Regions from separate parts of the Homo sapiens genome. Here region 1 is linked to region 2. The links come from fine-mapping of genetic effects on plasma protein levels. Region 2 holds a variant in brackets. A gene starts in the other region. All regions are shown on one strand. Distances are from middle to middle. Region 1 holds the start of PLA2G2A (phospholipase A2 group IIA). Region 2 has its middle 110 kb from the start of PDE4B.

What was found. A credible set is the group of variants that fine-mapping cannot tell apart. PIP is the posterior inclusion probability: the model's chance that the variant is causal. The UK Biobank Pharma Proteomics Project read protein levels with antibody pairs (Olink). The fine-mapping took linkage between variants from a reference panel, not from the people measured, so its PIPs are less certain.
Region 1: PLA2G2A starts here. The variant in region 2 is the best candidate, but not a certain one, in a credible set for the plasma level of the PLA2G2A protein (UK Biobank, PIP 0.51).

What each region holds. Positions count from the first base shown.
Region 1 is chr1:19,975,679-19,983,678 of GRCh38, reverse strand. PLA2G2A (phospholipase A2 group IIA) reads left to right here and starts at 4,061. Exons shown (of 5, transcript NM_001395463.1): 1 at 4,061-4,099; 2 at 4,800-4,945; 3 at 5,155-5,299; 4 at 5,558-5,664; 5 at 7,836-8,000. The coding sequence starts at 4,906. The coding sequence ends at 7,978. RefSeq lists an enhancer at 4,918-5,417.
Region 2 is chr1:65,677,110-65,693,364 of GRCh38, reverse strand. No RefSeq gene overlaps it. Among named protein-coding and RNA genes, the nearest start is that of PDE4B, 110 kb to the left of the region's middle. The variant C/T (reference allele first, on the strand shown) is at 8,538.

The sequences.
Region 1 (8,000 bases), 46 Mb after region 2:
TGAACCATCTCAAAGTATCTCCCCACAACATATTTATTAATTACAAAAGGAAAAATAGTAACTTTACAGTGGAGAAACCCGTCAGACACCATCTTAACCAGTGATCAAAATTAACATGAGTAGTAGTGAGATATACCAATATCATCGAGAAGGACACCATATCACTTTGTAACATTCTTGCTAAAAATACATAACCTCAATCTGATCATGAGAGTGTATCGGACAAACCCAAAATGGATGACATTCTACAAAAGCTTGACCAGTACTATCTAACAGTATCACAGTCATAAAAGGCCAAGAAAAGTATGGAGATGTCACAGATTAGCAAAAACTAAGGAGATATGAAAACTACATGCAATGTGAGAGCCTGGAAGAAAAAAGACATGAGTAGGAAAACTGGTGAAATTAAAATAATGCCTGTAGATTAGTTAATAACATGAATTTCCTGGTTTCCATGATTGTACAATGGCTATGGAAGATGTTAACATTAGGGAACCTGGGTGAAGGGCATTTTTTCTGTAAGTAAAAATTCCACTTTTGCAATTTTTTTCTGTAAGTAAAAATTTATCTCAAAAAAATTTTTAATGTATGTTCACAAAGGAACATTAGGAAACAGTAGCAGAAAAATTTCAACCGTAATCCTGCAATTAAAAACAACTGCTGGCCAGGCTTGGTGGCTCACGCCTGTAATCCCAGCACTTTGGGAGTCCCAGGTGGGCAGATCATGAGGTCAGGAGATCGAGACCATCCTGGCCCACATGGTGAAACCCCGCCTCTACTAAAAATTCAAAAATTAGCTGGGCGTGGTGGCACATGCCTGTAGTCCCAGCTACTCCGGAGGCTGAGGCAGGAGAATCTCTTGAACCTGGGAGGCGGAGGTTGCAGTGAGCCGAGATCTCACAACTGCACTCCAGCCTGGCGACAAAGCGAGACTCCGTCTCAAAAAAAAAAAAAAAACGAAAACAACAACAACAAAAAAAACCTGCTTATGCAGATATTGATTTGGCAAAAGAAAAAAACTTGTCAATATGCTGATTCTTTTAGTTATTAATAATGCAAGGAAAGTGTTCTGAGCACTGACTAAGCTCAAAGCACCTCTCTTTGAGCACTCCAATCTTATGTAAAATTGCCATCCTCCTACTCCAGATACCCCTCCTCCATCCCTACTGTAAGAATTAAGGAAAGAGGAAAGAAACATGAAAGCTGGCTTGGCAGTCAAGGACAGGTTTATTTTAGAGAGGGGCAGCTGTCTGAGTTAGGTCAGAGGCACACACTTACAGACTAAGAGTTTTTAAGGATTCAGGGTGGGAGAGTTTAACAGAGGCTTGGACTGCTTCTGTGTCTTTTTGTTGTGCCTATCTGGAAGGGAGAGTTTCTGTGTCTGTTCCCATACATCTTTCTGCAGCCTCAGGCATACTCCCCAAGTCTGCTTTTAGCTTTCCTATCTTAGTGCACCTGAAGGGAAAAGAATGTGCTTATTAAGGCTCACTGTTTTACTGGGGCCCATTTTATGAGGGTGAAGTTTGGCAGTTGCCAGAGAAACTTTCCGAACACCTCCCTCTCTGCCCGAGCTGTCTTATCTGTGTTTTATCTGTGTTTTATCTGTGTTTTACTGTCTACTCTTTCTGGCTGTTTGTAGTGAGAAGAGAAATGATTTCCTTGAAATGCATGAGGCTAGAAAGGGAGCTGGAACTTAAAGTGGTGGTGTTTGTCCGAGATGACGGTGCTCCTGCCCTGTCACCTACTGCCTCTCTCCCCATTGCAGTGTCACCACCTATCACATGATGTCATTTACTAGTATGTCTTTTGCTGATTGTCTGTCTCTTTCTGCTTAAGCGGAAGCCCTGTGAAAGTAGAGGTTTCTGTTTGGCTTACTGAGTCCAAGGGCTTGGATTAGGTCTGGGATGGAAGATGAACAAGAGGCCAATTCATGGACTTTGAATTCCTGTAAAACAGCCTGAAATGATGGGAAAAGGAGAGGCTCTATCCGACGTCACCAGAGTCCTTGAGCGTTGGAGTATTTCTTTCAACTGAAGCCTGGACCAGGGCTATCCAGATATACAGAGAGGGAGGCGGTTCTGCCTATTGGAGGAACTACTGTTTCCGAAAGTGCAATGTTTAACAAAGGCAGTGGTCTACCCCGGGGGGTTGAGACCTCTGAACCCTGACGTGGCCATAAAGCCAACTGCTATAGGACTGGCAACCCAGAATAAGAAGAGTGAAGGAAGCCAACAGAGATCCCTGGAGGTTGTGTTAGTTTGCTTCGGCTTTGTATTAGGTACTTTGTGGCTTACACAACAGACATTTTATTGTCTAACAGTTCCAGTGGCAGAAATCAAAGGGCCCAACAGGGTTGATTCCTTCTGAGGGCTGTGAGGGAGAATCTGCTCCATCCCTCTCTCCTAGCTTCCAGTGTTTTCTGGTAATCTTTGCCATTCCTTGGCTTGTAGAAGCTTCACCCTGATCTCTGCCTTCATCTTTGTATGGCCTTCTCCCAGTGTGCCTGCCTGTCTCCAAATTTCCCATTTTTGTAATGACATCTGTCATCTTGGATTAGGGCCCATCCTAGCTGCCCTAGTGATCTCCTCTTAACTAATTATATCTGCAATGACCCTATTTTTAAATAAGATCACATTCTAAGGTACCGGGACTCCAACACAGGAACTGAGAGCAGGAAGGAGGACCACAGTCCAACCCCTTACACAGTCGAGCACTGGAGGTAAATGGTATTCTCGAGAGGAAAGCTGTTTGATGGCTCTTGGGATAGATTAGGTTATGCTCCAGCAACTGCCCATCTCAATTATCATCAGCTTAATACAACAAAAGTCTATTTCTCACTCACACTAAGACCCCTGTGAGCTGCAGGACTTTCTAGGACAACTGTCTTCCGTGCCATGATTCTTACACCCCAGATTGCTTTCATCTTCTGGTTCTACCAGTGGGGCAGGGAAGGGCTGGGGAGTTGCATCTCATAGTCCCCTTGCTGGAGAAACCTGGAAGTGACCCTTCATACCAGTGCTCATGTTTTACCAGTCAGCAGCAGGGCCCTAGGTCTCCATCCCTGCAAGGGGCTCTAGAGTGTAGGGAACAGATGGAATGTTCACAAGCACCACAGCCCCTGCCACAGTGACTTTTTTAGGACTGGTATCGCAGAGTGTTTACTTAAGGCGGTGGAAGCTAAATTCTTAGCATGTGCTGGAGAGCAATGAAAAAGATATTTACTTTATGAATTAAAGCTGGAGTCAGTGTCAGCCCGAAGGCTGAAGGAAAAAGAGCAACAGATCCAGGGAGCATTCACCTGCCCTGTCTCCAAACAGGTGAGGATGGGGAATAAAGTGAAGGCAGTGCTTTGGTGGGAACTTCAAGGATAGCCTCTGGCTTTTTCCAGGTTTAGAAGCTCATATGAGACAGGGGTGGAGGAAAAGAAGAAAGAAGAATAAGAAGAGAAAGTTGAGGCCCTGGCCCAAGTTAGTGGGAAGGGAAATCCACCCCCATTAAACTCTCTCCCTGGTGGACTGTGGGGTGCACACGTGAGGCCTGCACAGGTGCTGGAACATGGTAGAGGCCCAGGACATACTTCCTGTGAATGAATGATTGAGCGGCTGAATGAATGAGTACCACTAAAAGCCCTCTTTTCTATTCCCAAATGCCACATTGAGCAGAAGGGAGCAATCCTTGCTCAGCAATTGGTAGTCCCTTTGGGTGTGCAAATGAGTCCACAGCCTGCAACAGCAGACAGTCTCTGCCCCCCTTAGAGGCGATTGCAGGGAGGTGGCTGACCGTTGATCACACCCAGAGCTGGTTATGGGAATTTACTCCATGGAAAGACTGCAAAACTGCCTGAAATGTGTTTTGGCATCAGCTACTGACACGTAAGGTTTCCCAATCCTCAACTCTGTCCTGCCAGCTGATGAGGGGAAGGAAAGGGATTACCTAGGGGTATGGGCGACCAATCCTGAGTCCACCAACTGACCACGCCCATCCCCAGCCTTGTGCCTCACCTACCCCCAACCTCCCAGAGGGAGCAGCTATTTAAGGGGAGCAGGAGTGCAGAACAAACAAGACGGCCTGGGGATACAACTCTGGAGTCCTCTGAGAGGTAAAGAGCCAGCGAAGCTGATGTCCTGTCAAGAGCAGAATTCCTGCTCATTCGCTGCCTTTGAGAGTGGCTGTGTTGTGCATGCATGTGCATGATTTGATATGTATGAGAGGGTGTGTGTGCATGAGTGTGTTGAGTGAGTATGTGAGTGTAGTGTAAGAGAGGATGTTGGCACTATCAGGTAAGTACGAGAGTGTGTGTATGTGGGCATAGGTGTGTTAACATGTATGTGTTTGGGAACTTGTGTATGTGGAAGGGGTTAGAAGGCCTAGAAGAGAGAGGTTGATGCTTTCATTCTGGAGGAAAATACTGAGGCCGAGCCTCCATGGGTGCCTTGGAGACTCCAAGCCTTGAATCCAGTGTGGGGATATGCAAGCTATGTCTAGCGAGGGACACATCCTCTGACCTCAGGAACCTCCCAGGTAGTTGGGAGGAACCTGGTTCCAACCTCCCAAGAACTCTCAGTCTGATGAGGTACAGGGGAGGTCTCATTAGTGTATCATGGGGTTCTCCACAGGTCTGAGGGCCTGATGTGTGTGAAACCATTCTGCAGAGCTGGGAACGGGTCAGGAGGTGGTTGTGTGTGTGTGTGTGTGTGTGTGTGTGCATTGCTGGAGGGCACTCCTTGTGTGCTCTGAGTGTGACAGAGGAAGTCACCCTGGACTTAGGTTGGATGGGAGAGCATGTCTGTGTGTCTCAGAGCCACCAAGGAGGAGCAGGGGAGCGACGGCCGGGGCAGAAGTTGAGACCACCCAGCAGAGGAGCTAGGCCAGTCCATCTGCATTTGTCACCCAAGAACTCTTACCATGAAGACCCTCCTACTGTTGGCAGTGATCATGATCTTTGGTAAGAGCTGACCCTGACCTCTGAGCATGGGGGGACAGCCCCAGAAGGGAAGCACTCTTGTCCCTTAGTTTTCTCTCCCATTGCAGTGATCCTCTCTCAGGGGGAAAAAAGAAGCCATTTGGGAGGAAGGAGAGTAGCAGAGAGGGGCAGAGAGGGAGGGCGCAGAACCCCATGCCCCATCACCAGACAACTCCCAAATTTCCTTCCAGGCCTACTGCAGGCCCATGGGAATTTGGTGAATTTCCACAGAATGATCAAGTTGACGACAGGAAAGGAAGCCGCACTCAGTTATGGCTTCTACGGCTGCCACTGTGGCGTGGGTGGCAGAGGATCCCCCAAGGATGCAACGGATCGGTGAGGCCACCTATCCCTCCCTACCCTCCTAGACTCTGGCCCAGGCAGGGCTGGGAGCTGCAAAGACAGTGCCGGTTCCTGATGGGCGCAGAGGTCTCAGGATGGCCTGGCTGGAAAAGCAGCCGGCATGTTGGAACTTCTGCTCTAGACTGTTGCAAAGTCACTGGGTCTCTGCCCAGGGTCCAAGGGGGTGAGACCACAGGCACCAGGCCTCCTGGAGCTGTGGGACAAGAGCCCCAACAGGGTGTCTCCTCACAGCTGCTGTGTCACTCATGACTGTTGCTACAAACGTCTGGAGAAACGTGGATGTGGCACCAAATTTCTGAGCTACAAGTTTAGCAACTCGGGGAGCAGAATCACCTGTGGTAAGAGTCCTACCTCACCATCGAGTGGCCCTCATTTGTTTAGACAGTGCTGGGGACTGTGCTGGGCACCAAAGATAGACACAGAGGGACACAGTTCCTGCTTCAGGAAGCTCACGGTTGAGTGGGAAGCCAGGAAAGTGAAAATCCAATGTAGTAAAGACTCCAGTGGGAAGTAAACAAACAGATAAGGCATTAACACAGCCTGAGGCTTGAGGAAGGCTCCTGGAAGGGGTGACCCCTAAGCTGAGTCTGAAAGGCTGTGCAGAGAGTCAGGGAAGAGGAGGGAGCATTCCCAGAAGAGGACACAGCATGGTCAAAGGCACTAAAGGGCACTGTAAGCCATTCTGTACTGCCCAGCAGAAACATGAGGAAGAGGAGCAGTGCTGAGCCATGATGCTGGAGACATAGGAAGGAGCTAGGTCAATCCGGCCCTCCAGGCCGGGCTGTATTTAGGTTTTGCCCTAAAGCAATAGGATGCTATTAAGCAAAGGAGCTACAGGGTCAGATTTGCATTTTAGATGACTCACTGTGGGGACAGGGTCGATGGAGACAAGTGGAAGGGGGGCAGAGAAAGCTATTGCCATCATGCAGGCAAGAGGGAGTAACATCTTGACATAAAACAATGGAGGTCAGGATGGGAAAGGTGGAGAAAAAATCAAGATGCATTTGAGATGGAATCAGCTGAACTGGTGACTGAGTTGGGAGGGATGGGGAGAGGGAGTTGTTGGATGGATATGTGGCTGCATGGATGGCACAACTGTGATAAAGACCATGGGAGCAGGTCATGGTGGAGGGTGGGGAGGAGCAGTTCTATTTCCAGCATGTTGAGTTTAGGGGCCTCCAGCACCCAGGGAGGGGTCCAGCAGGCAGCTGTCTATACAAATGCAGCTCAGGGGAGAATTCAGGACTGGGACACAGATTCAGAAGCCAGCAGCAGAGACCTGAGAGGTGGGTGTGATCACTCATTTGCTGTTTAAAGGCCCAGAAAGGAGACAGAGAAGGGATGGACAGAGAGGGAGAAGGGGAACTGAGCGAGAAGGTCAAGGAGTCAGTAAGGAAATGGTTAGCAAGGGCCAAGTGAACAGGGAGTCCTCCATGAAAAGGGCCAACAAGGCTCCCCTGGATGTTGAGGCAGAAACGCATGAGGGACTCAGGGGAAGCTGTTTCCATGGAGTCGGGAGGGCAAAGCCAGATTAGACCAGGTGGGGGCTGATGGGAAGGCAAATAAAGACAGGAGGCAAAGACAACATTCTGGAGAAAGTTTGGCCCTGAAGGGGAGGAGAGGTGGGTGGCACTGGAAGGCTTTGCTTGGTGTCCCCAGACAGCTGACTCATGAGTGGGATTTGGAAAAAGCGTGGACTCCTGCCCATGGCCTGAGTCCTTTAAGATCAGAAATTATGTCTCCCATCATGGCCTCTCCATAGAGGCATGTATCTTCAGCAGGCGTTAGGTCACAAGCCACATGATGCCAAGCTGACAGTGGCTTGCATAATGGGGATATGTGACTGTCGCATAACTAGAATTCTGGAAGAGTGCAGTGCCAGGCTTGGGGCAGCTTTCCAGCCATGTCATTAAGAATCCAGCCTTCTCCTGGCCTTCAGCTATGCCACGTGGCCAGTGTCTACACCTGGGATGTCAAGAGACAGGCTGCAGGTCCACCCTCCTGGCCTCATACTATGGAAGAGGCTTTCCTTTTGGGCATCTCTCTTTTTGGAGGGAGGAAATAGATCGTTCCCAGAAGCCCCCAGCAGACTTCCCCTTGTTGCTCATTGGTTGGAACAAGGTTACATGATACACAAAGACCAATCACTGCAAAGGAAAAAGGGATGACCCTGCCTGGCTTACACCAATCACAATCTATTCCCAGACCCCCGAGGCTAGGGCTTTGCCTCCTGGACACATCTGTTAGCAAGAGGAAGAGATTATGGCTGTTAGGAAGGCCTTTGAGAAAGTATCCCAGTGCCTGGCTGTGTCTCCACCAGGCTGGAGGCCAGCATCCCAAGGGCAAGAATTCTGTCTCCCCATTGGTCAGAAATATCTGGAGCGCAGGTGTTTGTCTCCAACTAGGAGCTTCTGGAGGACAGGGCTGTGTCTTCTACCCCAGGGTTCCCACAAGAAGCCACTGAATATTAATAAACTCCCATCTTGTGTTTATTTTCTTATGATTTCAGCAAAACAGGACTCCTGCAGAAGTCAACTGTGTGAGTGTGATAAGGCTGCTGCCACCTGTTTTGCTAGAAACAAGACGACCTACAATAAAAAGTACCAGTACTATTCCAATAAACACTGCAGAGGGAGCACCCCTCGTTGCTGAGTCCCCTCTTCCCTGGAAACCT
Region 2 (16,255 bases):
TCTATTGACTTCTTCGCTGGAGATAAGTCATGTGCTTTCCAAGAGGTAGCCACAGCCAAGTTTCAAATAAACCCTATTATGCCTTCCTTCAATGGGTACAATCTTGACTGACATTTACATAAGTAAGAGAGACAAGTGACCCCTCCCAGAGCAATCTCTGTTCCTAACGGTGCCTTCCATCTGTACCCCTGGAGATATTAGAACTGGAAACCTTTAAATGGCGTCTTTTCTTGCATAAAATAAAGAGCCCTCAGCTAGAAGCATCCCGTTACAAGATCACCAAGGTATGATAAGCCATGCTATAGAGTGTATTTCATTCCAAGAGGAGAATCAGAACTGAACAGTTTTAAGTAGAGGAGAGACTTTGATTAGATTTTTATTTGGGGGAAAATAACTGCTGTGTGGAAGTTGATGTTTAGAACAGCATCATTGGAAGGTAAGATGCCTTTGAGGAAGCTGTTGGAAATTATAGTGGGCCAGACTAGAGTTGTGACAGTAATGATAGAAATACGTAAATTGAATGAAGAGATTTAATCTAGTGGACTTATTTGTATATGGGACATGAGGGAGAAGCAGGGGTCAACACGGACACCCAGCTTTTCAAGTTCGACAAGGATGAATGCTAGAGTTAGCCACTTACACTAGGAACACAGAGGGAGAGAAGGGTTGGTGGGAAACACAGATGATTATCAACTTTTTGGGATGCCTTGGGTATGATGCAGATCTGGATTGAAACCGGGTCTCCCTCCATCACAGTCCAGGCCCTCTAATGCAACATAGGGAGCACTCCCATGGAGATGTCCAGAGGACAGCTGGATGAATGGGCCTGGGACTGAGGAGAACTGTCTGGCTGAGACATGAATCTGTGCATCATCAGAAAATGGATAACACCTAAAGCTATGGAAACGGAGGAGCTCTTCCAGGGAAATTGCGTAGATTGGAGAAATAAAAAGGCATGTATCTGGCCCCAGGAAACACCAGAATAAAGGCGGATGAGTCTCCATAGGAGGCTAAGAAAGAGTAGCCTGAGAGGTATGGAGACCATGAGAGTCTTACTTCAGAGAAACCAAGATGACATAAGATTTAAAGGAAGAAAGCGTTGTCAACAGAGTCAAATGCTGCCAAATGAAGAAATAAGAACTGCAGCAAGGAGCCACTTTTCAGTTTAAATGCCTTCAAAGACTCGTGTTTCTTTATTGAGCAATATTCATGAGCATGATATCTGGGTCAGAGTTCACTCAGGGATACAGAACACATTATGTTTGTTAAAGAGAAGGCATTTGGTGCAAGGAATGGGTCACACGAGTGCTGGAAGGCTGGAAGAACAAGAGGGCCCACTGCAATGGCCTAGAGAACAAGAACTGCAGGAAGCAACTGCAACTCCTAGGAGTGAGGAATCCAAAAGGGAGAGATGGTGTTTCCAGAATGAAGAGCTGGGGAGAAGTTCCAGGGGCCTGGAGCTCAGACTTCTTGGAGGAAGCTCTGGAAAGCTGGTGCTCAGACCACTGAGGAAGAAGAATCCAGCCAGGGCTTGGATTACGAAGGGATTTTAAAGCCCATCTGGTGAAGGACAATAGCATGGCCTGTTCACTGACTGCCAAAGAAGGGCGACCCAGCTGCTGCTGGCAACTTAGGGACATGGAGAGGCTGGAGCCAACTGTCTGTGGCTCTAGAGAAACAAGGACAGGAATAGAAAAACAGGAAGTCCATTTCCCCCTTCTCTCACTTCTCAGCCACTTTCTAGTGCCTCACATTGGCAAAACCTAAGGAAAGCAGCTAGCAAAGGAGTTCAGGAAATGCGATTTGCAAAGTCCCAGGCCCAGTTGCCGAGAGATAACAGATTTTTAAGTGCCAGCATGTAAGACCCTATCCAATCTGCCCCATAAAACAAAGTAGCTTGAGCCATGAAATTCAGCATTACTATCCACCAGACATAAAAACATGAGCAAGTTACATGCATCTAAGCTGCTATTTCCTCTCCTATGAAACAAGAATTCAATAGTACATGTCTTCTATTGCACAACATACTCGATCCTGAAAAATCTCACATTCTACAAAATCACACTAAAAATAAAGGACTAAAGGGAAAAAAATGAAATTGAGCATATCTCTCAAAAGCTGTGAAACTTTGCAACCAGACAGAAAAACAATAGCTGGAATCTCTGGAGATAACTTGGACGATCCAGGCAGGCTGCTCAGCACAGTTGAAGGCTGCTCAGCACAGTTGAAGGCTGCTCAGCACAGTTGAAGGCTGCTCAGCACAGTTGAAGGCTGCTTCAGGGGCTATCAAAAAAGCTCAGAGTTATAGAGAGGAGATGGTATCATGTAGGCACTAAGAAAATGCAGATAGAAGTGGAGCTCTGAACCAGAGGGGCTGCAGTGAATGTAGACAGAGGGGGACATGGACCTGCCGAGAGCCAGGATCTTGCGTAAAGCTGGCTTCTCTAGAGAGGGAGCCCCATGGCAGACTCTCATTTTTAGTTTTCTTAAAATAGAGCAGTAAGGGCCCTGAGTCTAAGCCACAGTTGAGCTGAGGGCTTTCTTATTTCCTGCTGAACGTTCTGATTTTATTCCTGCTTTTCTAATTCCCCTAGCCTTGCGGGGTGGGGTGGGGAGACTATCTGAACCAACCCAACTTCATTATACTGAAATCATTCCCTTATTTTCCAATCAAGTATAAGCTAACTGTTGTTACAGAAGCATACATTGTAGCAGAACAAACCTTACCCATATTAGTGTTTCCTGAGAAGTAAACATGAAAACCCATGAAAAGTGCTAAGCAGAATACAAGGAAGAAATTTATGTTTGTGCTGTTGTTCTTATGCCCCCTGCATCTTCTTCCACTGCTTCCTCACATGCAGCCTAAACTATGTGAAGTAGCACCTGGCATGTATTCTTGCAATTTCATGCAACTGCTTGGTTGCCTCTCCTAAAATGTCTACCAGTCTCCTAGCCTCGATTTCTACCCTCAAGGTGTCTGGTTAATTCCTATTCCTTCTCTGCCTTAGCCTAAAGAAGCCTCTGACCCTCTCTGTCCTAGACTCCTAGAGAGCCTTCGTCATCCCTCTACAGCACTTACACCACTGCTGACTGTGTCTCCAACAGGAGGTGGGGCTACTGGAGCGCAAGCACTGCATCCGATTCTCATGTCTATAGCCTCAGTGTCAACTACAGTGCCTGGAACCACCAAGTTTGGCTGTTGACAACGTTATCCCACAGGGAATAGTCAATGATAACCTGGGATTAGACTGCAGAAGGGTTTATACACCTACTTTTAGAATTCAAGTATTATTTGGTCAATACCAGAGAACTCGCAAATGTTTTTAAAAAGGCAGTCAAAACTGGCCCTCGGATGAATGAATGCAGCATCTCTAGGTCAGATGGACTGGATGAGGGCAGACTGGGGGTGTGAAACCTCAGAAGGCTCATGCTGTGAGCAGAGCAGAGGTGATGGGGGTAAAACAGGGAGCCCATAGAGGGAAGGAGGGGAGAAGGGAGGGCCTCAGATGGAAGCTTCAGAACTTGGCAATTGATAAGATGGGGAGAAGACTCCACAGCAACTCTCATATTTTATGCTTAGGATTCTGGAAGAATATTCACCCTCTTTCAAAATGGGAATAGGGGAAGAAAAAGCTTATTGGGAGTGAGAACTTGAGCGTGATTTTGCTCATCTGGTATTTCACTTGGTAAGGTAGAGACCCAAGTTTTAGTCCCTCTCAGCCCAAGTTAAGCTGTTGGTTAGTAAGTCTTTTTGTTTGTTTGTTTTGTTTTTTGTGATAGAGTCTCGCTCTGTCACCCAGGCTGGAGTATAGTGGTGCGAGCTCGGCTCACTGCAACCTTCGCCTCCTAAGTTGAAGCAATTCTCCTGCCTCAGCCTCCTAAGTAGCTGGGATTATAGGTGTGTGCCACCATGCCTGGCTAATTTTTGTATTTTTACTACAGAAGAGGTTTCACCATTATAGCCAGGCTGGTCTCGAACTCCTGGCCTCAAGTGATCTGCCCACCTCAGCGTCCCAAAGCGCTAGGATTACAGGAGTGAGCCACCACTCCTGGCTGGTTAATAAGTTTTAAATGTCAGTGTGCACAAATCTTTCCAGTGGCAAGAAAAAAAAAAGCAACAACAACAAAACCACACCTCTGTGTTCCTCCTCCTTTTCTCCTTTGACTTAATACTGAACAAACAATGTCGGTTTCTAGCCACTTGCTTGTCAAAATTTTGTGTGGTGGTAGAAAGAGAGATTGGAATGAGGACAAGACAATTACCATGATAGGGGAGGACTAGGACAGAAGTAGTGGCCAGAGATGAAGGGTGATGCAGGATTAAGGATGAATAAGAACAACAGCCAGTGCCAGATCTCTGGACTCCAGCACCAGCCATATGTCATCCCAGCCAAGTGAGTGACGACATCAGAGAAGCCAAATAGCCCTGTCCTCTATCTTCAAACTGCTGGGGTGAGCGAGCTGCAAGAATAAAACAGAGCTGACCTTTCTTTTCTGTTTCCCATCTCCTGCCTTGGAGATTCTGGTCCATTCTACTTACAACCAAAAGTCCCAGATGTATACAGCCAGAGTCTCTGATTAAGAGACACTCTTTCTTTTTTTAATTTAAAAGATACTAAGTAATAAATATTCACCATTTAAAAAAAAACTATAAAATGCAGATAAGGAAAAGCACTAATCACCTTCAGATAACTACTGTTGGTATTTAGCCTTTCATCACAAATTTTATATTCTTTACATTCTTTGTATATGTGTGACTATGTGCACACATACATTATTTCTAATGTTTTTTCCAAGATTTATGGTGGAAAAATAATGATAGACTTCTAAAGTCATTAACAGATAGTTTCCTATCCTACTGCACAATTTGGTGTCTGGATGCTCTGCTGACCTTAGCAACACTTGTTTAAAGTCCCAGCATAGTAAGGTCAGCCGCCGCCTGCCTGCTGTGTCTGCAGACTTTATAATTCTGTACCTACTCCCATATTAGGGGGCTCTCTCTTGCTTAAGTCCATACGCAGAATTTCGTTAGCCAGAGGAGTCCTGAATTGCAAGTGAGAAGACCCAAATCTTGGTACTATTTTAGCTTCTAAATGTGCTCCAACTTCAGGGACTTCAGGAGCCAAGCATCTCCTGAGGGGCCTCTGGTGAAGGGAGGGGGAGAGGGAAGAGCTCTCATTTGGAAAATGCCTACTATTTCCCCGTCAGGGACTGCTGGGCCCTCCCTATCAGCCATCCATCTACTTTATTACCGAAGCAAGGGGAGGCCTCTGCCCACATCCTGTTTGAAGGCTGGAACTTCAGACCTTAGGGCACAGGTCTTTTACTCAAAACTTTTCAGATAATGAAAGAATTGAGATAAGCCAAGAATGTCAACACAAGCTCCTAGAAAACAATTGCAGATGTCACCGTAGTCACTCTGCAGGGCTGCACTGGCAAAGATCCCAGAGCACTGACCCTGTGCCCAAAGTTTCCTTCTGCCTTCTCTGAGATGACCAGCAGGTGGCAGCAGAGCACAAGGCAAAGCAGAAGGACGGTTGTCGGGAGCTCTGGAAAGACAAGAGATTGCAAACACTATACTTTTAAAAATTTGATTGATATGTTTTCTTCACTTCACAAGTAACTTAATGGGTTCAACTCCGATTGGCCACCCCATGGTTGTTTCCTGACCCCTTGGAGATTTAGAGCCTAGAAGTCTGTCCTCACCCACTGTCCATGCGAGTTTGTACAGCATGAAAAGTTCTCATCTCCAAGTTAAGAAGTAATCTTTCTATGAGAAGCACACTGTTTGACAAGCTGGTTTTGATATTTACATGCCTTCAGGCCTAGACTCCTAGTCTGCCTCTTTTACGTACTACTTCTGAGTTATTTGAAAAGTTACTAAGTCCCCTATTTTCTCAGTGGAGATTTTAAGCATCATCAGGATTTAAATGAGGATGTGTGTTTAAAAGACCAGCATGACACTTGCCACATGGAAATTCCTCAGCACATTTCAGTTATCTCACCCCTACGAAGAGAAGTGAGGCAAATAAAGAGAATCTATTATGGGGAATGCTGTCATTTCAAATAGTTATAAAGAGGTAGAGAAAATGATTCTCAAACCAGAATTTTCCTCGTTAATTCATTTTTAACTATCTTGTGAAATACAAGCAATGTCAACGCTTCGTTTTCCTAAACATTTCACTCAAATCGACTTCGTTCAATTACATGCAATAGAAATTTACCAAAGGTCTATTATGTACCAGGCATTATCACAGACACTGTAGGTCCAAATATAAGTAAGACACTGGTTGGTGCAGCTCTCTGGAAATGGACAGTACAGGTATAGCAGGAAAGCAACAGAAGTAGTAAAATCAATATAGCATGCCCAGAGAGCCCCACTCTCAAGACCCAGGCACTGGGTCTAAATGACTAAGACTGAGGCTGATTCAAGACAACAGAGAATGTCCACCATGAACTCAGAATCCAGTCACAAACAAGAGCAGCCTACCACTAAAAGAGAAGCAAATAAGTGGAGAGTCACTGTGTGTGGCTCAGCCCTGCAGGGATGGCTGAAAGTTCAGGGAGGAGCCAAAACACAGAAAACCCTAGCAAGGTAAGAGCATCAAGGTTAGATTCCATCTAACCCTCCTGACTTTCATTTTCGACACTTCATTCTTCCACTCTGAGAAACCTAGCTTTGATCATTTACAATGTGTTTATTTATTTATTTATTCATTCATTTATTTTGTTCAAGCTTAACATCCAAATTAATTAGTTTCAAAACTTCTAACCCATACTCCCATGAGAAACAAATGTATCAAGTAAATACTACCCAGCCATAAAAAAGAATGAAACTGTCATCTGCAATAACATGGATGGAAAGGGAAGTCATTATGTTAAGTGAAATAAGCCAGGCACAGAAAGATGTTCTCACATGTCCTCACTTATTTGGAGGAGCTAATAATTAAAGCAATTGAACTCATGGAGATAGAGAGTAGAATAATGATTACCAGAGGCTGGGAAGGCAGTGGGGGAGGGGAAGTGGGGATAGTTAATGGGTACAAAAAAATGCTTAGAAAGAGTGAATAAGAGGAGGTTCCAAGATGGCCAAATAGCAACAGCTCCAGTCTGCAGCTCCCAGCGTGAGCAATGCAGAAGACAGGTGATTTCTGCATTTCCAACTGAGGTACCAGGTTCATCTCACTGGGGCTTGTCAGACAGTGGGTGCAGCCCATGAGCAGGGCAGGGCATCACCTCACCTGGGAAGCACAAGGGGTCAGGGAATTCCCTTTCCTAGCAAAGGGAAGCCGTGACAAACAGTACCTGGAAAATTGGGACACTCCCACCCTAATACTGCACTTTTCCAACGGCCTTAGCAAATGGCACACCAGGAGATTATATCCCGTGCATGGTTCAGAGGGTCCCACACCCACGGAGCCTCACTCATTGCTAGCACAGCAGTCTGAGATCAAACTGCAAGGTGGCAGTGAGCCTGGGGGATGGGCATCCACCATTGCTGAGGCCTGAGTATGTAAACAAAGCGGCTGGGAAACTCAAACTGGGTGGAGCCCACCGCTGCTCAAGGAGGCCTGCCTGCCTCTGTAGACTCCACCTCTGAGGGAAGGGCATAGCTGAACAAAAGGCAGCAGAAACTTCTGCAGACTTAAACGTCCCTGTCTGACAGCTTTGAAGAGAGCAGTGCTTCTCCCAGCACAGAGTTTGAGATCTGAGAACAGACAGACTGCCTCCTCAAGTGGGTCCCTGACCCCCAAGTAGCCTAACTGGGAGACACCTCCCAGTAGGGGCCGACTGACACCTCATACAGCCAGATGCCCCTCTGAGATGAAGCTACCAGAAGAAGGATCACACAGCAACATTTACTGTTCTGCAATATTTGCTGTTCTTCAGTCTCCACCGGTGATACCCAGGCAAACAGGGTCTGGAGTGGACCTCCAGCAAACTCCAACAGACCTGCAGCTGAGAGTCCTAACTGTTAGAAAGAAAACTAACAAACAGAAAGGACATCCACACCAAAACCCCATCTGTATGTCACCATCATCAAAAACCACAAAGATGGGGAGAAACCAGAGCAGAAAAGCTGAAAATTCTAAAAATCAGAGTGCCTCTTTTCCTCCAAAGGAACACAGCTCCTCGCCAGCAATGGAACAAAGCTGGATGGAGAATGACTTTGACGAGTTGAGAGAAGAAGGCTTCAGACGATCGGTAATAACAAACTTCTCCGAGCTAAAGGAGAATGTTCAAACCCATCACAAAGAAGCTAAAAACCTTGAAAAAAGATTAGATGAATGGCTAACTAGAATAAACAGTGTAGAGAAGACCTTAAATGACCTGATGGAGCTGAAAACCATGGCACGAGAACCACATGACGCATGCACAAGCTTCAATAGCCGATTTGATCAAGTGGAAGAAGGGTATCAGTGATTGAAAATCAAATGAATGAAATGAAGTGAGAAGAGAAGTTTAGAGGAAAAAGAGTAAAAAGAAACAAACAAACCCTCCAAGAAATATGGGACTACGTGAAAAGACCAAATCTA[C/T]GTCTGATTTGTGTACCCGAAAGTGACAGGGAGAATGGAACCAAGTTGGAAAACACTCTTCAGAATATTATCCAGGAAAACTTTCCCAACCTAGCAAGCAGGCCAACATTCAAATTCCGGAAATACAGAGAACGCCACAAAGATACTCCTTGAGAAGAGCAACTCCAAGACACATAATTGTCAGATTCACTAAAGTTGAAATGAAGGAAAAAATGTTAAGGGCAGCCAGAGAGAAAGGTCAGGTTACCCACAAAGGGAAGCCCATCAGACTAACAGTGGATCTCTCAGCAGAAACTCTACAAGCCAGAAGAGAGTGGGGGCCAATACTCAACATTCTTAAAGAAAAGAATTTTCAACCCAGAATTTCATATCCAGCCAAACTAAGCTTCATAAGTGAAGGAAAAATAAAATCCTTTACACAAGCAAATGCTGAGAGATTTTGTCACCACCAGGCCTGCCTTACAAGAGCTCCTCAAGGAAGCACTAAACATGGAAAGGAACAACTGATACCAGCCACTGCAAAACATGCCAAATTATAAAGACCATCGAGGCTAGGAAGAAACTGCATCAACTAATGAGCAAAATAACCAGCTAACATCATAATGACAGGATCAGATTCACACATAACAATATTAACCTTAAATGTAAATGGGCTAAATGCTCCAATTAAAAGACACAGTTAAAAGACTGGCAAATTGGATAAAGAGTCAAGACCCATCAGCCTGCTGTACTCAGGAAACCCATCTCACGTGCAGAGACACACATAGGCTCAAAATAAAGAGATGGAGGAAGATCTACCAAGCAAATGGAAAGCAAAAAAAAAAAGCAGAGGCTGCAATTTTAGTCTCTGATAAAACAGACTTTAAACCAACAAAGATCAAAAGAGACAAAGAAAGTCATTACATAATTGAAAAGGGATCAATTCAACAAGAAGAGCTAACTATCCTAAATATATATGCACTCAACACAGGAGCACCCAGATTCATAAAGCTAGTCCTTAGAGACTTACAAAGAGACGTAGACTTCCACACTATAATAATGGGAGACTTTAACACCCCACTGTCAACATTAGACAGATCAACAAGACAGAAAGTTAACAAGGATATCCAGAAATTAAACTCAGCTCTGCACCAATCGGAGCTAATAGACATCTACAGAACTCTCCACCCCAAATCAACAGAATATACATTCTTCTCAGCACCATACCACAATAATTAATAGCCTACCAACCAAAAAACATCCAGGACCAAATGGATTCACAGCCGAATTCTACCAGAGGTACAAACAGGAGCTGGTACCATTCCTTCTGAAACTATTCCAATCAATAGAAAAAGAGGGAATCCTCCCTAATTCATTTTATGAGGCCAACATCATCCTGATACCAAAGCCTGGCAGAGACACAACAAGAAAAGAGAATTTTAAATCAATACCCCTGATGAACACTGATGCAAAAATCCTCAATAAAATACTGGCAAACTGAATCCAGCAGCACATCAAAAAGCTTATCCACCACGATCAAGTTGGCTTCATCCCTGGGATGCAAGGCTGGTTCAACAAACGCAAATCAATAAAGGTAATCCATTATATAAACAGAACCAAAGACAAAAACCACATGATTATCTCAATACATTCAGAAAAGGCCTTCAACAAAATTCAACAGCCATTCATGCTAAAAACTCTCAATAAATTAGGTATTGATGGGACATATCTCAAAATAATAAGAGCTATTTATGACAAACCCACAGCCAATATCATACTGAATGGGCACAAACTGGAAGCATTTCCTTTGAAAACTGGCACAAGACAGGGATGCCCTCTCTCACCACTCCTATTCAACATAGTGTTGGAAGTTCTGGCCAGGGCAATCAGGCAAGAGAAAGAAATAAAGGGTTTTCAATTAGGAAAAGAGAAAGTCAAATTGTCCCTGTTTGCAGATGACATGATTGTATTTTTAGAAAACCCCATCATCTCAGCCCAAAATCTCCTTAAGCTGATAAGCAACTTCAGCAAAGTCTCAGGATACAAAATCAATGTGCAAAAATCATAAGCATTCTTATACACCAATAACAGACAAACAGCCAAATCATGAGTGAACTCCCATTCACAATTGCTTCAAAGACAATAAAATACCTAGGAATCCAACTTACAAGGGATGTGAAGGACCTCTTCAAGGAGAACTATAAACCACTGCTCAACGAAATAAAAGAGGACACAAACAAATGGAAGAACATTCCATGCTCATGGATAGGAAGAATCGATATTGTGAAAATGGCCATACTGCCCAAGGTAATTTATAGATTCAATGCCATCCCCATCAAGCTACCAATGACTTTCTTCACAGAATTGGAAAAAACTACTTTAAAGTTCATATGGAACCAAAAAAGAGCCCGCATTTCCAAGACAAAGCATTTTCATAACAGGAGTCTCATCTAATTCTCTTAACCTATGAAGCATATGATTGTTCGTCATATTTTAAAGGCGGGCAAATGAAGCTCACAAAGGACAAATGGTTCGCCCAAGGTCAGATAAATAATAATGTGATTCAGGAAAGACTCAAATGAAGACATAAATTCCAAGTTCAGTGTTTCTTCCACTTTTATGGCCTCTAATAAGATGAGTTCATTTGTGTCTTAAAGGCATATTGGTCTTCAACATCTCCTATTACATTTCAAACCTTCCTGTTATCTGTTGAATTATTAAATTGCTTTTTTAATCTTTATTTTAAAACATGTTTGTGTTCACACACATATATACATATAAAATATAAAAACATGTAAAGCATTAAGAGTTATTCATCATTCTATGAATTGATCCCTTTACACACACACACACGCATATTTTTCAAATAGTTGCCATAAACAAGAAAATTCTATTTAAAATCTTTTTAAATGTACCCTTACATTATAAATCTTTTACTATGCAGCTATGCGACATTAATAATGGTTATTAACTGCATAATATTCCATTATGTCTTCACCATAATTACTTAACCATTTGCATATTATGTAGACATTGAGATTACATCCAGGTTCATATTAGAGAATATGCTGTTGAGAAAAAAAGTTCTTACACTTCTATGAGAAGACTAGTTATTTGCTAGCTATTATAATAAGTAACTACCCAGCTGAGTTTAAATTTACGTAATCAATCAATGACAATTCATTTCAATAAACATGTTTCTGAAACCTAGTCAATCAATGACAGCTCAGAATTCTGAAAGTCAGCCAATTGGAAACAGCTTCACTTTAATAATTGCATTTTTAAAGTCAGCAACAGATGCACACTGGTAACCATGTTCCTAAAACTAAGGGTCAGCCAATCACTAAACAGTGATTATTACACATTGTATGCATGTAGCAAAATATCCCAAATACCCCATAAATATATACACCTACTATATAGCCAGAAAAATTAAAAATTTAAAAAAAACAAATTTCTCAAGTACAGTGTTTATATACAGTTCTTTTGTCTTGAGTCTTACAGCATCCATTCAGTTTAAACCCTGACTTCCCCACCTCCCTCCGTATCGGTTATGTGATTCATTCATAGTACATTCTGAGCCGCTTTGTCACACACAGCCGGCTTTCCATATTGTTCCCATATCCTGGCTGAGATTTTTAACTTACATGCAGTAAAATTCACTTTTATGGCATACAGTTTGATGGGTTTTGACACATGCATAGCGTCACGATTCTATAGAGAACATTTCCATCACACATCCACCTCCTCTTGAATTCCCCATGCTTCCTTTTTATACAAAACCCCTTCCCCTCACCCCCAACCCCTGCTCCTGCTGATGTGTTTTTCTCCCTATAGGTCTGCTCGTGGAATCAAACAACACATAGTCTTTGGGTTTTAAGATTCATCCATGTTGTTGGGGAATCAATAGCTTGTCCCTTGATATTGCTGAGTTATCTCCTATTATATAGATGTATCACAGTTTTTTTATTCATTCTCCAGCTGAAAGATATCTGGATTGTTTCCATGTTCTGACAATTACAATTACAATTTGACAATGACAATTACAATTATAAAGTGGCTATGAAGATTTGTGTACATATTTTTATGTGACCATAAATTTTTATCTCCCTTAAATGGGTACCTATGAGTGAAATTGTTGGACCACTTGATGGTCCACCATATGTGTTCAACTTTATAAGAAACTGCCAAACTGTTTTCTAAAGTAGTCAAATCCTTTTTTATCGTGACGAATAATGTTGGAGAGCTCCACTGGTTCCACAACCTCTCCAGCACATGATATTCAGAGATAACTGTAAACAGTCTTATAGATGCATACTGGTATCTTATTTTATTTCCCCTAATTTTTAGTGATTCTGAGCCCATTTTCATATACTTATTTTCCATCCAAAATTCCTTCTTTGGTGAAGGTTCAGACGTTCTGTCCATTTCGTAAAATTAGGTTGTTGTCTTATTGTTGAGTTTTAAATATTCCCTATATTCCGAATGCAGCTTTTAGTCAGAAATGTGATTAGCAAATATTTTCCCCCAATCTATGCCTTCTATTTTTCAAATATTTAATAGTGTCTTTCTCAGAGCAAAATGTTACATTTTAATATAAAGTCCAGTTTATCGAATTTTTTTCTTTTACATAAGCTTTTGGTGTCATGTCTACAAATTCTTTGCCTAACCCACATCGTGAAAGTTTTCTCTTAGGGAATTTTCTATTATAGAAGTGTTATGATTTTAGATTTTGCATTTAGTCTATTAATCATTTTTGATTCACATTTTTATGCAGCGTAAGGTGCAGACTAAGACTCTTTTTTGTTTTCACATGTATGCCCAATTTTTCAGCACCACTTACTGGGATTACAGGCGTGAGCCACTGCACGCAGTCCATTGCTTGATTTATGATGTTGAACCAGTCATATATTCCTGCAATAAACCCCACTTGGTTGGGATATATTATCCTTTTTATGTTTTGCTGGATTTGATTTGTTAATGTTTTCTTGAAGATTTTTATCTTCAACTGTTTATATCTGCAGTTTTCTTTCTTATAATATCTTTGTCTAGTCTTGGTATTGAGACATCCAATACTAATAAAATGAATTGAAAAGTGTATTCTCTGTTTTTACTCTGGAAGAGATTATGCAGAGCAATCAGGCAAGAGAAAGAAATAAGGGGCATCCAAATTGGAAAAGAAGAAGTCAAAGGATCTCTGTTTGCCAATGATTTGATTGTACACCTAGAAAACTCCTCCAAAAGACTCCTAGATTTGATCAATGAATTCAGTAAAGTCTCAGATTATAAAATCAATGCACACAAATCAGTAGCACTGCTATACACTAAGAATGTCCAAGCTGAGACTCACATCAAGAACTCAATTTCTTTTACAATAGCCGCAAAAAAAATAAAATATCTAGGAATATACTTAACCAAAGAGATTAAAAATCTCTACAAGGAGAACTACAAAATACTGCTGAAAGAAATCATAGATGACACAAACAAACAGAAAAACATCCCATGCTCATGGATTGGAAGAATCAATATCATGAAAATGACGATACTGCTCAAAGCAATCTACAGATTCAGTGCAATTCCTATCAAAAAGACACCTGCATATGTATGTTTATCACAGCGCAATTCCCAACTGCATAGATATAGAACCAGCATAAGTGCTCATCAACTGATGAGTGGATAAAGAAACTGTGGTATAAATACACCATGGAATACTACTCAACCATTAAAAAAGAATAAAATAATGCCTTTAGCAGCAACTTGGATGGAGCTGGAGGCCATTATTCTACATGAAGTAACTCAGGAATGGAAAACCAAATACTATATATTGTCACTTACGAATGGGAGCTAAGCTATGGGTGCACAAGTGCATGCAGAGTGGTACAATGGACTTTGGAGACTCAGAATAGGAGAGGATGGGAAGAAGATGAGGGATAAAGAAAACTACATATTGGGTACAATGTACCAATTTGGGTGATGAGTGCACTAAAATCTCAGACTTCACCCTTATGCAATTTATCCATGTCACCAAAAAACACCTGTACCCCCAAAAGTATTGAAATTTTTAAAAAGAAAAAAAAGAAGCTGTGAATTTCTTCCACGGATCCTCATATTAGATGCCTGTCTACTCAGTAAACTAAAAATATTTCTTCCTATATATGTCAAGCCACACCTATCTACTTAATTTTTGGAGACTGTGATCAATTAGCCGTAACCACAGATATCTATGTTTAAATAATCTGGCAATCTTGTTTTCCCTATCATGTAATCAGATATGATATTATAAAAGATGAAAGTATGTTTCTTGGTTGAAAGTCTGAGATTGAGCCCAGTCATGGGCTGGGACATGGCAACAATCTGAGGATTATTAGAGATACCCACCATCTGTGTTTGTTCAAGGGAAAGGTTGTATAATTGTGGTAAGGCTTAAGATTTATATTGTAGTGCCCATTTCAATAAAACAGTGCAAGGTTATTGGTATGGTTTGAATGTGTCTCCCAAAAATCATGTGTTGGAAAGTCAACCCCCAATACCACAGTGTTAAGAGGTGAAATCTTTAAGAAGTGTTAGGCCATGAGGGCTCTGCCCTCATTAAGAGATTCATACCATTATCCCAGGAGTAAGTTCCTTATAAGAGGATGAGTTTGGCCCTCACTTGCTCTCTCTCTTTCTCCTATGTGATGCCCTCCACCATGTTATGATGCAGCAAGAAGGCTCTCACCAGATGCCAGGCCCTCAATCTTGGACTCTCAGCCTCTGGAACCATGAGCCAGTTTGTGACATAAATTACCCAGTCCGAGATATTCTGTTACAGCAGCACAAAATGGACTCAGACAGTTATACTTTAACATATAGAGAAATGTCTTCTTGTGAGTTTGTCAACATTTTTATTATTGTTTAATATGCCCAGGTTACCCACCTGCTGACTAATTTATTTGCTTAAGAATACATCCTGTACCTCACTCTGTGCTTCTAGGCTCCATTTCTTTCTTGACTAAATCATTTGTTGGTTCTTTCAACAAGGTTCTATCAGTGGTGGATTCAGGTGCATTGTTAGTTTATCTCACTATTTTACAGATATTGTTCTATTGCCTTCTAGTTTCTATTCTTGCTTTTGAGAAGCCTACTTAGAGTTTATTTTTTCTTCCTTTGTAAGTTGTCTTTTTTCTCTGCTTTTGAAAAATATCTTTTCTTTATGGTTGTAGTTTGGAAGTTTCATCATCTGTCTAGGTGTGGATTTAGTTTTATTCACAACCTGGGCTTATGATTGCTGGGTCTTTAGGTTAATATTTTTCATCAATTCTGAAACATTGTCTCTCAGAAGACTCTTTGCCTACTATCTTTCCCTCATCTTCTTCATTATCTCTCTTTAGAGTTCCAGTTAGACACATAGTATACCTTCTCTCTCCACTTCCATGTCTTTTATACATTCCTTTTCTTTATCTTTTTTTTCTATACACATTCTAAATGTAAGCTTTTTTTATCTTTGCAGGAAGCATTCTCAGTAAATTCATGAGCTTTATCTTCTAGTTCGCTAATCTCTTTTTGGCTATTTAACCTCCTATTATTTTAAAAACTGTAATGATCATTTTTAATTTTTAGAAGTTATATTTTGTCTTTTTAAGATTTGCTATATTTGATCAGTAATAATTATTTTATCACTTTTAATTATTTATTTTCTGTCTAATGATTGTCAACATGTTAATTTTAAAATTTCTGTGGGTTTTTTTTTTATTTGGTCT